Linked DNA regions of Homo sapiens: regions 2, 3 and 4 are each reported to be linked to region 1. The links are microRNA targets in miRTarBase. Many come from high-throughput screens and were not tested one by one. Region 1 holds a microRNA gene; each other region holds the end of a gene's coding sequence.
What was found. The annotated mature microRNA hsa-miR-4421 reads ACCUGUCUGUGGAAAGGAGCUA and lies in region 1 at 894-915, shown strand. An mRNA with a match to its seed (bases 2 to 7 or 8) in the 3' UTR can be bound and repressed. Matches are read on the target gene's strand: a 7mer-m8 pairs with bases 2 to 8, a 7mer-A1 pairs with bases 2 to 7 and ends in A, and an 8mer does both.

Region 1 (3,110 bases):
TGTCTGGAGTAGCCACTGTGAAGATGCCGGCTTCAGCAGGGGAAGCACAACTGGGGCTGCACACTCTGCTGAGCCCACGGGTGCCGGGAACAGGTGGGAGCCCCACCCCCTAACAAGTCAGTGGAGCAGGAGCCACATGCTCCCAGGCACAGCTGCAGCTTCTCAGCTGTAGCCACAGACCCAGGCATCCCTGAGGTCTCAGGGGCCCCGGAAGCCCTTTGTTCCCGTAGGCTTGAAAGTGCCTGCTCCCACTGCCTGGCCTCTCCCTGCTCCTGGCCCCCACTCTGGGGCAGAGCAAAGTTGTGGCAGAGCCCAGGCACTGTTGTGACCCAGCTGGGTACCCAAGCACTCAGGGCAGTGCTGACATGCCAGCCCCCTGCTGTCTCAGGCCATCCAGACTTTGGGAACTGAAGAGCACAAGAGGGAGACCAAGGGGTTGCTCAGGGTGGCTCAGTGTGGGCCTGTAGGCAAACCTCAGCATGAACAGCCTGGGCGGCATGGACAACATGTTGATGGTGACAGGAGGCAGACAGGCTCCTGGGCAGAAAGGGGCAGGTTCCCAGTGAAACGCAACCTTCAAGCCATGGATGGCATGAAGCCTGGGGGCTGGGCTGTCAGCTCCAGGTGGAGTCTGCGGCCTGGAGTGAGAACTTATGGTGCTTTTTCCAGGCCCGCCCATGGCCACCCATGGGCCAATCAGAACACACTTCTTCCTTTCTGAGCCCATAAAAACTATGTTACCTAGCTAGACTCATACAGATGTCAGGACTACCAGCTGCAGGAAGGAGCTACCCACTTCAGGTCTCCTCTACTTGTCAGTATGACCTGCCTGTGGAAAAGAGCTACTCACTCTGGGTCTCCTTTCTGCTGAGAGTTGAACACTTGTTGGGACAACCTGTCTGTGGAAAGGAGCTACCTACTCTGGGTTTCCTCTCCCCTGAGAGCTGGACACTCATCTGGACAACCTGCCTGCAGCTAGGAGCTACCTTCTCTGGGTCTCTTCTCTGCTGAGGGCTGCACTCGTCAGGACTACCTGCCTGCAGAAAGGAGCTATCCACTCCAGGTGTCCTTTCTTCTGAGAGCTGGACACTTGTTGGGATGACCTGCCTGCAGGTAGGAGCTGCCCACTCTGGTCTCCTCTCTGCTGAGGGATGCACTCGTCAGGACTAACTGCCTATGGAAAGGAGCTACCCACTCCAGGTCTCCTCTCCCCAGAGAGCTGGACACTTGTCAGGATGACCTGCCTGTGAAATGGAGCTACCCAATCTGGGGCTCCTCTCTACTGAGGGCTGAACTAGTTGGGATGACCTGCCTGTGGAAAGGAGCTACCAACTCCAGGTCTCCCAAGAGCTGTTCTGTCACTCTTTTGCTCAAGAAAGTTCCTTTCTGCCTTGCTCACCCTCCAGTTTTCTGCATACCTCATTCTTCCTGGACACAGGACAAAAATTCAGGACCTGTTGAATGGTGGGACTGAAAGTGCTATAACACAAACAGAGCTAAAACACCTGCCTCCACCCCACTCGTCACACTGCAGGCAATGAGAAGGAGAGAAGAGCTGCAGCCCTTCAGGGAGCTCAGATGCACAGGCTCCCCCAGCCAGGGCTGTGACACCCTCTTTGGGGCTCTGTGGTTTCTAGTGTCTTGGAGCTTCCAAGTGCCACCATGTTCCCCTTGTCCAGATGTGAGTGCCCAGAGCAGAAGCCACTTATAGTGCATCTGATCCAGCCACAGGCTTGAACAGAGCCAGCACCTGTGGTGGCACCTGGAACTGCCCACCCCACCACAGCAGCCAATGCTTGGCTGTGTGCAGCAGCCAGACCCCATGCTTGCTTACTTGTGCACCCCTCTCCTCTCCATGCCTGGATCATTCTTTGAAGGTGTGGGAGCCAGGCCAGTAGCATGAGCTGAGTGCAGCCTGCCAGGCCGAGTGGGTGGAACAAGCCCAGCAGGCTTGAGCAAAACTCTGGCAAAGGCACCACTGGCCACAGAGGTTTCCAACTGGAAAAGTGACACCTGGAGGATGCCATGACACAAGGATTCTGACTGATGGGTATGCAGCCCTTGGTACAACACTGAATATAAATGGTAAGAGTGAACGTCCTTGTCTTATTCCTGATCTTAGGTGGTACTATGGTTTGAATATGATTTGTTTGGCCCTGCCAAGTCTCATGTTGAAATCTGATCCCCAGTGTTAAAGATGGGGCCTGGTAGGAGTGTTTGGGTTGTGGGGGTGGATCCTTCATGAATAGCTCTGTACCATTCTCACGAGAGTGAGTTCTTACTTTTAGTTCCCACAAGAACTGGTTGTTGAAAAAAGCCTGGTACCTCCTCTAGTCTCTCTCTTGCTTCCTCTCTCACCATATGATATGCATATACCAGCTCCTCTTCACTTTCTGCCATAAGTGGAATCAGCCTGGAGCCTTCACTAGAAGCAGATGCCAATGCCATGATTCTTGTGCAGCCTGCAGAACCGTGAGACAAATGAACCTCTTTTCTTCATGAATTACCCAGCCTCAGGTATGCCTTTATATTAATAGTAACACAGACTAAGATGGGATAATTTTTTCAAGCCTTTCACCACAAAGTGACATTAGCAGTGTGTTTTCATAGATGCCCTTTATCAGGCTGAGGAAGTTTCCTTCTATTCCAGGTTTCTTGTTTGTTTTTTTAATCATTAAAGTGTGTTGAATTTTCTCAAGTGCTTTTTCATATCTATGACATGACTGTTTGGCTTTTGTCCATTATTCTATTAATATGATATATGATAATGTATGCTGAGCCTGTATTCATGGAATAAATTCCACTTTGTCATGGTCCATAAATATTTTTATATGGAGCTGGAATCATTCTGATAGTCTATATTCATAACAATAGTTTATATTCATAAAGTTACTGGAAAGAATTTGGCTGTTAATCTTATCAAGAATACCTCAGAGATGATGAGCTGCTTCTGTCTTTCTGCTTTCAATATACTCTCTGTGCCCTTGGTTTTCCAGTTGGTTATGTTGTGTATAGGTGTGCATCTCTTTGCATTTATACTACAGTATAACCTTGAACAACATGAGGGGTTGGGGTGCCGACCCCACTAGTCAAACATCCACATATACATA
Region 2 (3,110 bases), not on the chromosome of region 1:
GCAAAGAATTACAATGACCTCTGATACAGTCTGGCTCTGTGTCTCCACCCGAATCTTATCTTGAATTGTAATCTGAATTGTAATCCCCATATGTTGGGGGAAGGATCTTGTGGGAAGTGACTGAATCATGGGGGCAGTTCCCCGTGCTGTTCTTGTGATTGTGAGTTCTCACAAGATCTAATGGTTTTGTGAGGGGCTTTTCCCCGCTTCACCCTGTGCTTCTCATCCTTCTCCTTCCTGGCACCATGTGAAGGACATGTTTGCTTACCCTTCTGCCATGACTGTAAGTTTCCTGAGGCCTCCCCAGCCATGTAAGTCAATTAAACCTCTTTATAACTCACCCAGTCTCAGGTATTTCTTCCTAGCAGTGTGAGAACAGATTAATGAAGCCTCTTTCAGAAAAGAGCATCACCAACGTTACCAGGACAACCAGTCCTCCTTTAAGAATTCAAATGTTTTAAACTCAAGGCAAATATATTTATTTTTATTTTGTCTCATACACACACAGAAAAACAAATAAAAATCTAGCCTGAGATTTAAAACTCACTAAGGAAAAAAAATCACAGCAAAAGCAGTAGGTTAACATCAGGATATTTATATTCAAGGCTCTATGGTATCAAGTTTTTTTTCTCTTTAGAGCCAGGCATGGTGGCATGCACCTGTGGTCCTAGCTACTCACGAGGCTGAGGCAGGAGGTTTGCTTGAGCCCCAGTGCTTGAGGCTGCAGTTAGCCGCGAATGCACTGCTGTACTCCAATCTGGAAAACAGAGCAAGACCCTGTCTCTAAAAAATTTGAGATTTTTTAAAGTCCATATTTTTTTGTTATTTAAACGTGATATTATTCAACATTGATGAACTTGGGTCGTGAGTTCTAAAAGGGATTCAAAATAAAATGGCATTTTCACTTTTTTAAAATTAAGATACTTTTTCATGATCAAAAATATGTTGTGTCTCCCTCCTGACCCTCCTTTTCAGGTAGGTAGCAAACGTTGCGAAATTTAGTTGGCATATGCTTCAGACAACCTTTTACTTAAATCATTATCCTCACTGCTATCTTTTTTTTTGAAGTTGTATACTCCTAAAATGTTTTAAGCACTTAATTTTTCTTTTATATTATTAATTGTTTTCAACCCACTAATAAGTACCATTTTGCTAATTGGGAAATTAATACATATTGTCAAAGAAACAGACTAAACTGTATTTTGAAAATCCTGAAGAATAAAAATTTGTAAAAGGAAAAAAACTAAAGACGAAAACATATTTACATCTCTGACATCTTCCTACTTTAAAAATTACAAAGAAAATAGAAAATAGAGGTGACTTTTAATAACAAAAAAGTCCATTTCTCAATATTAATAAAAAAAAAGCAAAAATACTCATAAACACATAGGATTAAAAGTAATGATTCCAAGAGAAGATAATTTAGAAAAAGGCATTTAATTACAAAATTTTCTTTTAAATAAAAAAGCAATGGCACGAATCACCACAAAATCATTTAAGTGATCATATCCACAGGCTGTTCTTGTAATTATATGCTAAAAATTTATGACTGTTCTCATTAACAGCATTCCCCCCCTTCATTAGAGACATCAAGAGCTTCTGAGAATGTGTAGTTTTTCCTAAAGTACTACTAAAAGTATCATGAACACCGTTTGTGCAGCATTCATTTACATCACCTTTTATTTACTATATTCTAAACTCATAAAATATTTAACATTTCTCTACTTCATTTCTTATTTACAGTACAGAGGCTCATCTCTTGTCACAATATGGTTTGTGCATTAAAATCCCTGGGAATAGTACTTTCAAGAACATTTTAATAAATTGACTCCGATTATTTAAAATAAGAACACAAACAAAAGCTTTTTCACCCAGAAGAATAATTCTTCCAGTAGACTTATTCAGGACTTAAAAAAAAAAATCCCTCTTTAAGTAAAATACATTCTTCAACCATTACTGGATTATACTATCATGCATATTTATAATGCTAATAATGACAACACGTAAAGCCAGCTATGACTTTTAAAATTCCATTTAGAAGAGTACAGTAGACAGAAAGTGCTTTGGCTTTCACTCTCTTGTTATCCATAATCCAATTATTATTTCACATGGGTATATTTTATTTATTCTTAGTATATAAGTATTTAATGGTTCAGTAATAACTGGCAGCTTCTGACAGTCCTATTTTCTTGGTCGCTGATACGGTTCTGTGAACATAAGTCAGATGAACTGAAAAAAAATGCAAATCACTTCCTGTGATACAGCAGGAAAAGGTGGAATGTTATTATTTGAGCAAATGATTCAAAGAGATGAATACTAACATTCTGTCGTGACAGGAATACTGTGAAATTAGGTATGTTTTAATGTGCTGTCTTCACAACTTGCCATACCTGGTATTTGTTATCTTTTTGGTCAAAAAGCAAACCTAACTGGGAAAGGGTAGATGTGAGGAGGTAATAGAGGTGAGAGAGCATATATTACAGTATATATGATTTTAGGAGAAAAGAATGGGAAGAGAAGACATTTCCACATATTAAAAAAAAAAACTATGTCACATCTGGACACATTTCACAGAGCATATGAAAACTGCCCACAAACTAATTAAGCCTCTTTACTCTCACTCCAGAAATTTTTTTTCTAATAATAACATTAATAATAATTAATATAATTCTGGCAGCAGCACAAATCTATGACTTTTTAAGGCTTAAGAGAGTCATTTTTAAATACTTGGGTACAACTGAATAATATGAGTCCTGCCATTTCTTTTATTTACACTCTTGACTCAGCAAGAATTATGACAGAAGTCCACATGGTTATCTGCAGCTTGTTAAGTCTTCTACAATGGCTTTGACTTTATAACCCACTCAGCATTTGGGTTAAGCTGATATAAATCCTTCATGTAAGTGTCATCATCAAGGCAGCGTTCCCCTGTTAAAATAGATGTTGTGTCAGTTTAATACAGCAGGTAGATTGGTATGCAATTTTAAACTTAAGCTTAATTATTTAACTCTTAAGTCTTGGACTTCAAAATACTTATTCTACTTTGGGAGGCCGAGGTGGGCAGATTGGTTGAGATCAGGAGTTTGAGGCCAGCCTGGGCAACATAATGA
Region 3 (3,110 bases), not on the chromosome of region 1:
TCTCCCTCTGTCATGTCTCCATGACACTTTGCCCACCCCTCTCTGGGAGTGCCCCCTCCCCGCATCATATAGGAACTAGGGCTTCACAGGTGTACCTGGCCTGTGGCCCAGAGTTGGCGCTCAGGGAATATTTACAAATGCTGCAAAAGACCCACCGGTACAGGGTGTGGTAGGCAGCATTTCCTGGAGCTACAGGACTTGACAGCATTTTTTTCTTTTCCAGAGCCAGTACAAGTTTGTGTGTGAAGCGATTCTTCGTGTGTATGAAGAAGGTTTAGTCCAAATGCTGGATCCTAGTTAAGACAACTGTGAAAAAGTTCATTCCTCTTTCCCAAGGGCATCCTCCTTGAAAGAGGAGGACAGACCTCTCTGGAAGCAGCAAGAGGAACCAGTAGCTGTGGGAAAGGAATGGGCACCTCTGAACCCAGGCACTTTAAACTTCTATAGAAAAGATATCGTGTACATAGGAACTGGTGTAGATAAGCATGCAATTATGGCATCATTTAGGCCTGTATTTCTATGGAAAGATACAAAAAGGATCTCAGTTTGGGGCCTGTCCTAATGCCTTCTTCCCTAACATCACCACACACACCCCTGTCGGCATCCTGGAGCAATTGAGACCGGACACCCACAGAGCTGTTGTCCTCCCAGCAACAAGATGGTGTGGTTATCTTGGGTCATTTGGATGTTTTGTTTGTTTCTGTGTGTCAGACTGTAAGGGCTGAGCTTTCTGTGCTTCTAGGTGGAGCTGGAACAATTCAGATTCACCCGCCCTGATGCTAAGGAAACCCTGACGTATGTACTAGATGGCAGGGCACTGGGGGTCAGGCTGAAGGCTGAGCAACACCTCTCTGCCCTCCCTCCCTTTGTCCCATCTCCCAGCGACTTCCAATATTCATGTTTCTGAGAATTGTGTCCCTCTTCAGGTTCCCTCTTGGTGCCTAACCTGGATTAGTAATGTGCATTCAGGTGAATTTTCAGCTGAGGCTCTGAGAACTGGTACTCTCAGTGTGTTCTGGTCATCTTGTGGCTTAGTTGTAGAAGCAGGTGTGTCTCTTGCCTCTGCTTGCCTCCTACTGCACACTCAGCACCCAGGACTGGAATCACCGACTACTGAATCTCCTACATGTATTGCTGCTACTTCAAGCTCCTCCACTTGAAACCTTATGATTTTCCCAAGGGGAGATGGGACAGTGTCATCTAAATATTCCGAATGTTTGGCCTTCTGAGAAAAGAGCTTCTAGTAATTGAACCATGGGAAACCCAGCTTCTGGAGGGTTGGCCGTGGGGCTGTGTACATGTGTGTGCCCAGGGGTGAGTGTTTCTCAGGATTCCTAACGATTCAAATTACCGTTGAGTATATATAAAGAATGAGTCTCTGTATGGAAGAACAAATGTGTGCATTCACCCCCAGTCACAATGGTCTCCATTGCATTTCAAAGGAGAGGATCAGACTATCTGAATATAAACACAATCTGATGTTAATTTATTCTAAGAACACCATCATTTTGATTGTCCTAAAGAATTCTGCCTTTGTGAATACCGTGTTAAATTTTTTTAAATTTGTGACAGGATTGTAGCAAATTATTATTTAAGGAAAATAAATTGTGTAAACATTTAATGTGGTATTTTTGAACAGCGGTTTTTATGTACTCAGAAGAGGAAGTAAAGCCAGGTTCTTAATGGTATTTATAGAAAAGATGTTTTCATATTATAATGCACATAAATGAAGCCATTTTGATATTCAGCAAATTCGGTGCCAATTGAATAGTTTGCTGGTAGCAAGACGGATGAAGACCTATATGGGAGATTCTTTATCTCTAGAGCTAGCATATTTACTTGCATACTTTGTTTCTTTTCCACATGGATATTTTACTGCTAAATGGCAGAGGTGGGAGGGAGATGTCACACAGTACCATAACCCCATATTGAAAACAAGAAACCACCAGAAAGTTTGCAGCTAAGGGGCAGGGGATTCAGTTCCTACGCCCACTCAGCACTAACTACTTGCGGGCCTGGTTGCTTAGAAGCTCTACCTCTCTTTCATTATCTGTAAAATAGAAACAATACTTAGGACTTTAGTTGGAACATGAGGATTGAATAAGATCACGCTATTCATGTGACTTTTTATCGGCTAGAACAGCAACAGACACTGCTGTGGGTGAGTTACTTAGAAAAGTTTAGTTATCAGTGATTAGCCCAAAAACACATCAGTCAAAAATAGAATCCACTGGATTTTTGTCTCTCTTTTTAGAGACAGGGTCTCACTGTCGCCCAGGCTGGAGTACAGTGGCATGATCATTGTTCACTGCAGCCTCAAATTCCTGGGCTCAAGCAATCCTCGCACCTCAGCCTCCTGAGTAGCCGGGACTATAGGCACATGCCACCTCACCTGGCTTGTGTGTGTGTGTGTGTGTGTGTGTGTGTGTGTGTGTGTGTGTGTGTGTGTGTGTGTGTGTGTAGAGACAGGATCTTGATGTGTTGCCTAGGCTGGTCTCAAACTCCTGGCCTCAAGTGATCTTCCCACCTCAGCCTCCAAAACTGTTGGGATTATAGGCGTGAGCCACTGTGCCCAGCCTAACTGGGTTTTTATGAGAGGAAAATAGAAAATGCTCTTCTAGAAGAGAGAGAACAAGAGCACAAAATAATCTGGACTCACAAAAATTCAGCAAGCTCCAAGAAAGGGGGATGGAGGGAACGCTGGCAAAAATTTAAATGCCATTAGGATATTTAGCAAGTTATTACTGTTTGGTAAAAATGCATCATCACCCTGTGTGCAAAATGCTTGCAAAGTAGTCTAAATGTCTTTGGAGATGGGTGTTTTACTGCTTTTTTCCAAAAACAAATTGTTTATTATGGTTGCAGAAATGCAGCCATTACGGTCACATAAATTTCTAAAAAGCCTACCAAAGGTTGCAAGCAGTCTTCTGCCACTGGGCAGGCCAGCAGTTCAGACCCAGCGAGGTTGCCAGGAACAAATCCAGGAAATACTGGGAAGAACAAGACAAGAGAATTACCTAAAAGAGCAAACAATTCAAGTAAATCCTGTAGCTATTACCACTTAAAATCCGTAGCTCAAGATTCCTGTTTCACCACCTTATACACTTAAG
Region 4 (3,110 bases), not on the chromosome of region 1:
GAGGCTCCTCTGTGTCCGGGTCCCCCTGCTGGGGAGGAGCCGGCCATCTCTGAGGCAGCGCCTGAAGCTGGCGCCCCCACTTCAGCCAGTGGCCTCAATGGCCACCCCACCCTGTCAGGGGGTGGTGACCAAAGGGAGGCCCAGACCTTGGACAGCCAGATCCAGGAGACAAGTAAGTGGCTGGGCTCGGCCTAAGGGCCAGCCAGGGGCCCTGCCACTGGCCGCAAATTGAAACTCCTTTGTTTTTGACTAGAGTGTGGCCTAAATTTTAATGAAGTAACCTTTTATTTTCCAGGCATCTAATGATGACATTCTGGTCTCGTCTTCCGTCTCCCCCGTGTTCCCCTCTTGTCTCCCCTGTTCCCCTCTCCCTTCCCTCCTCCCATGTCACTGCAGATTGAGACCTACAGGCTGACGTTCCGGGCAAATGCCAGGGCCCGCACCGACCACGGGGCCGACATTGTCTCCCGCCCCCCACACTTCCCTGGCGGCCCCAACTCGGGCTCCCGGGTCCTTGGCCCCCTTTCCCGGGCTGTCCACTAGACCAGTGAGCGCTTGGGCGCCGTGCTGGGCAGCCCGCTAGGCTCGCCTTCCCTCCTGCTTTGCGTGCCCGGGGCAGCAGCAGCCCTGCCCCACACCTCCTCTCACTCCCCAGCCTGGGCCCATCTCCCTGCTTTGGTCTTGCCCCATCACTGCGCCACTGCTCCGTGGAGGAGGTTGGGAGGGGGTTGGGGTGGTTGAGGCTAAGTTGGGATCTAGGAGAGGAGAACCAGATTCTATCCTCATCTTTTTTTGGTTCTTTGGTCCAAACCCAAAAGAAACTGACATGCCCTCCCTTCTCCCTGGATCTACCTGGAGGGAAGAGTGGAGGTGGATTCCGAGTGGTGACAGGACGCTGACCGTGGAGCTTAAGCCACTGCCTCTCCCTCTGGTCCCACAAATGGGCGCCCCCCCCTCCCCATGCAGGTGGTGTCGGGCCCTTCTTGCTGCCCTGCCCCAAGTTGGGGGTCAGTGCTGCCTGTCCCCATGCTTAACATACCCGCCTAGCTGCTGTCACATTTTTCTTGTTTTGTCCTTTTATTTTTTTCTAATAACCTAAAAACTGGCAAAATAGTTCTGCAGGTTGAAGCCATGTCTACATGAAAGTCCTCAGTAAGTGTTAGAGGGAACAGGGCGGAGATATCCTTATGCCACCCCCGCTGGAGGATGTGGGCAGCTTAGGGCCCTGGAGGCGGTGCGGCAGGGAAGAGGGGTGCAGAGGCTGTGGCTGGTGAGCCGGTCAGGCACACAAGGGGCCCTTGGAGCGTGGACTGGTTGGTTTTGCCATTTTGTTGTGTGTATGCTGCTTTTCTTTTCTAACCAAGAGGCTGGTTTTGGCATCTCTGTCCCATTCCCTGGGATCTGGTGGTCAGCCCTAGGATAAAAAGCCAGGGCTGGAGAACAAGAAAGGGCCAGGAGATGGAATTCCTTCAGGCCGGCACCCACACCCTAGGACATGTAAGCCCTCATGTCCAAGGGAGCCTCATGCAGATAGTAGGAAATCAGGTCTGGAAATTTAAAAATAAAAGGCATGAGACTAAGGCTATCTGCTTCCCTTATGCCCTGACTGGAGAGGGGAGGGAGGAGAGGCAAGGCCCACAGAGGGCATCCCAGCTAGGCCTTGGGATGGCTGCAGTGAGGAGAAATCCCGGGAACTGTATTGACACAAAGATTCTTATTGCACTTGTATTTTTTGTATTAAAGTTTGCATGGTTTCTAATAAAGGATTCAAACATAAGTTTGTAGTGAAATGGCCTGGGAGATTCCAAGGGCTTCTCTGGAGGGGGATTGGCTGCAGTGTAGATTTGCCTCTGAGGAGGCTGCCCCAGACTTGGCCTCCTCATGCCCCCTCCTGACCTCTGCCCTTCTCTGGTCCTGGCATCCCTGGAGAAGGTAGGGGTCTTGACCTAAGTTTAGATTTGATCTCCATGTGCAGGGAGGCTGTCCTGGGCCTGACAGGTCCTCCCCCTTTCTGAGGTAGCAGTGCCTTGTGGAGGTTTGACACCATGTCCCTAGCTCCCCAAGCACACACCAGGAAACTGCAGGGGCTCACGGAGGAAGTGCTGCCTGGGCCAGGGGGACCAGCTTTCCTCCGTAGAGACCATGTGCAGAACACTTCTGCTGTGCCAAGAACATGAGGGAGCCAGTGTTTTGTCAGCAGGAAGAAAGGGCCTGCTGGGATGAAAGTGGGAAGGAAACAGGGTTGCGTAGTCAGGAGACACCTCAGGGGCAACAGCACAGGCCCAGAGTACCTGCTGCCTCCACTGCGTCTGTCCTGGGGTCATGAGGATGCTGAGGTTGACGACAGGTTCCAGGTCCTTTCACTCCTTTGGCCAAAGGTTGGGGGTAGGTGGCCCAAGTGGCGTGCTCTCTAGGTAGACAACAGGAGTGGTCAGAGTTCCCTCAAAGGATCCTCCACTCCAGAGCACCTGAGAAGGCCGGGACCAGAGGCCCTGTGTGATGTGTACTCCGCAGCTGTTTGGGGTGGGACATTTCTGTACTTCTCGATTTGCTTATGGCTCAGCCATTACCTGTGTCAGTCCATGATTCTGTTGTAACAGTTTTAAGAGTAAATAAATAAAGCTGCCTGATGTCCCATCACGCAGGCTTCGTGCTTCTGTCTCGTTTTGCATCTACCACCTCCCTGGATCTTCCTGCCCTCAGCTCAGCCCCTCAGCTGTGAACTTGTGGATGTGGACACGGGAAGGACCACTGTGCCACATAGCCCTGCGCCTTGGCTACCTGTGGAACTCTCCCCTAGTCTGCCTGATAAAGGGCTACTTGACACTTACTTGCTTACTTACTGTCCAAAACTACAAGGACAGTGACAGTTCTGACAGGCTTCCTGTGGTGGGTACCGAGAGCAGCAGCTGTGCCAGGGGACTGGGGTGGTTAACAGCACCGCTGCTTCATGCTCTTTCTTGGTGAAGGGAGGAGGTTCCAACCCCCTTCTCTCTTAAAAGACTTGGGGCCACAGCCAGCCCGTTCCCCAGCAATAAGCATCTCACTCTCTTCTCTACCTACCTTCCTCCTTCCTCTTTGGGGAACCGTGGCCCAGTGTATGGAGGCCC

Region 2: miRTarBase lists ARHGAP18 as a target of hsa-miR-4421. Seed matches in the 3' UTR shown: 7mer-m8 at 777-783.
Region 3: the mRNA of PTPN3 is a reported target of hsa-miR-4421. Seed matches in the 3' UTR shown: 7mer-A1 at 1,568-1,574, 7mer-m8 at 2,255-2,261 and 8mer at 2,464-2,471.
Region 4: the mRNA of MAP4 is a reported target of hsa-miR-4421. Seed matches in the 3' UTR shown: 7mer-A1 at 887-893.

What each region holds. Positions count from the first base shown.
Region 1 is chr1:51,058,986-51,062,095 of GRCh38, forward strand. MIR4421 (microRNA 4421) reads left to right here and starts at 852; the gene lies at 852-920. It overlaps MIR6500 (microRNA 6500), which reads left to right and starts at 1,033; the gene lies at 1,033-1,118.
Region 2 is chr6:129,575,677-129,578,786 of GRCh38, forward strand. It overlaps ARHGAP18 (Rho GTPase activating protein 18), which reads right to left. Exons shown (of 15, transcript NM_033515.3): 15 at 456-2,928. The coding sequence ends at 2,837. Among named protein-coding and RNA genes, the nearest start is that of ARHGAP18, 130 kb to the right of the region's middle.
Region 3 is chr9:109,376,747-109,379,856 of GRCh38, reverse strand. PTPN3 (protein tyrosine phosphatase non-receptor type 3) reads left to right here. Exons shown (of 26, transcript NM_002829.4): 26 at 224-3,110. The coding sequence ends at 301. Among named protein-coding and RNA genes, the nearest start is that of EPB41L4B, 57 kb to the right of the region's middle.
Region 4 is chr3:47,850,225-47,853,334 of GRCh38, reverse strand. MAP4 (microtubule associated protein 4) reads left to right here. Exons shown (of 21, transcript NM_001385682.1): 20 at 1-172; 21 at 397-2,640. The coding sequence ends at 401. Among named protein-coding and RNA genes, the nearest start is that of MIR1226, 2.2 kb to the right of the region's middle. RefSeq lists an enhancer at 559-1,076.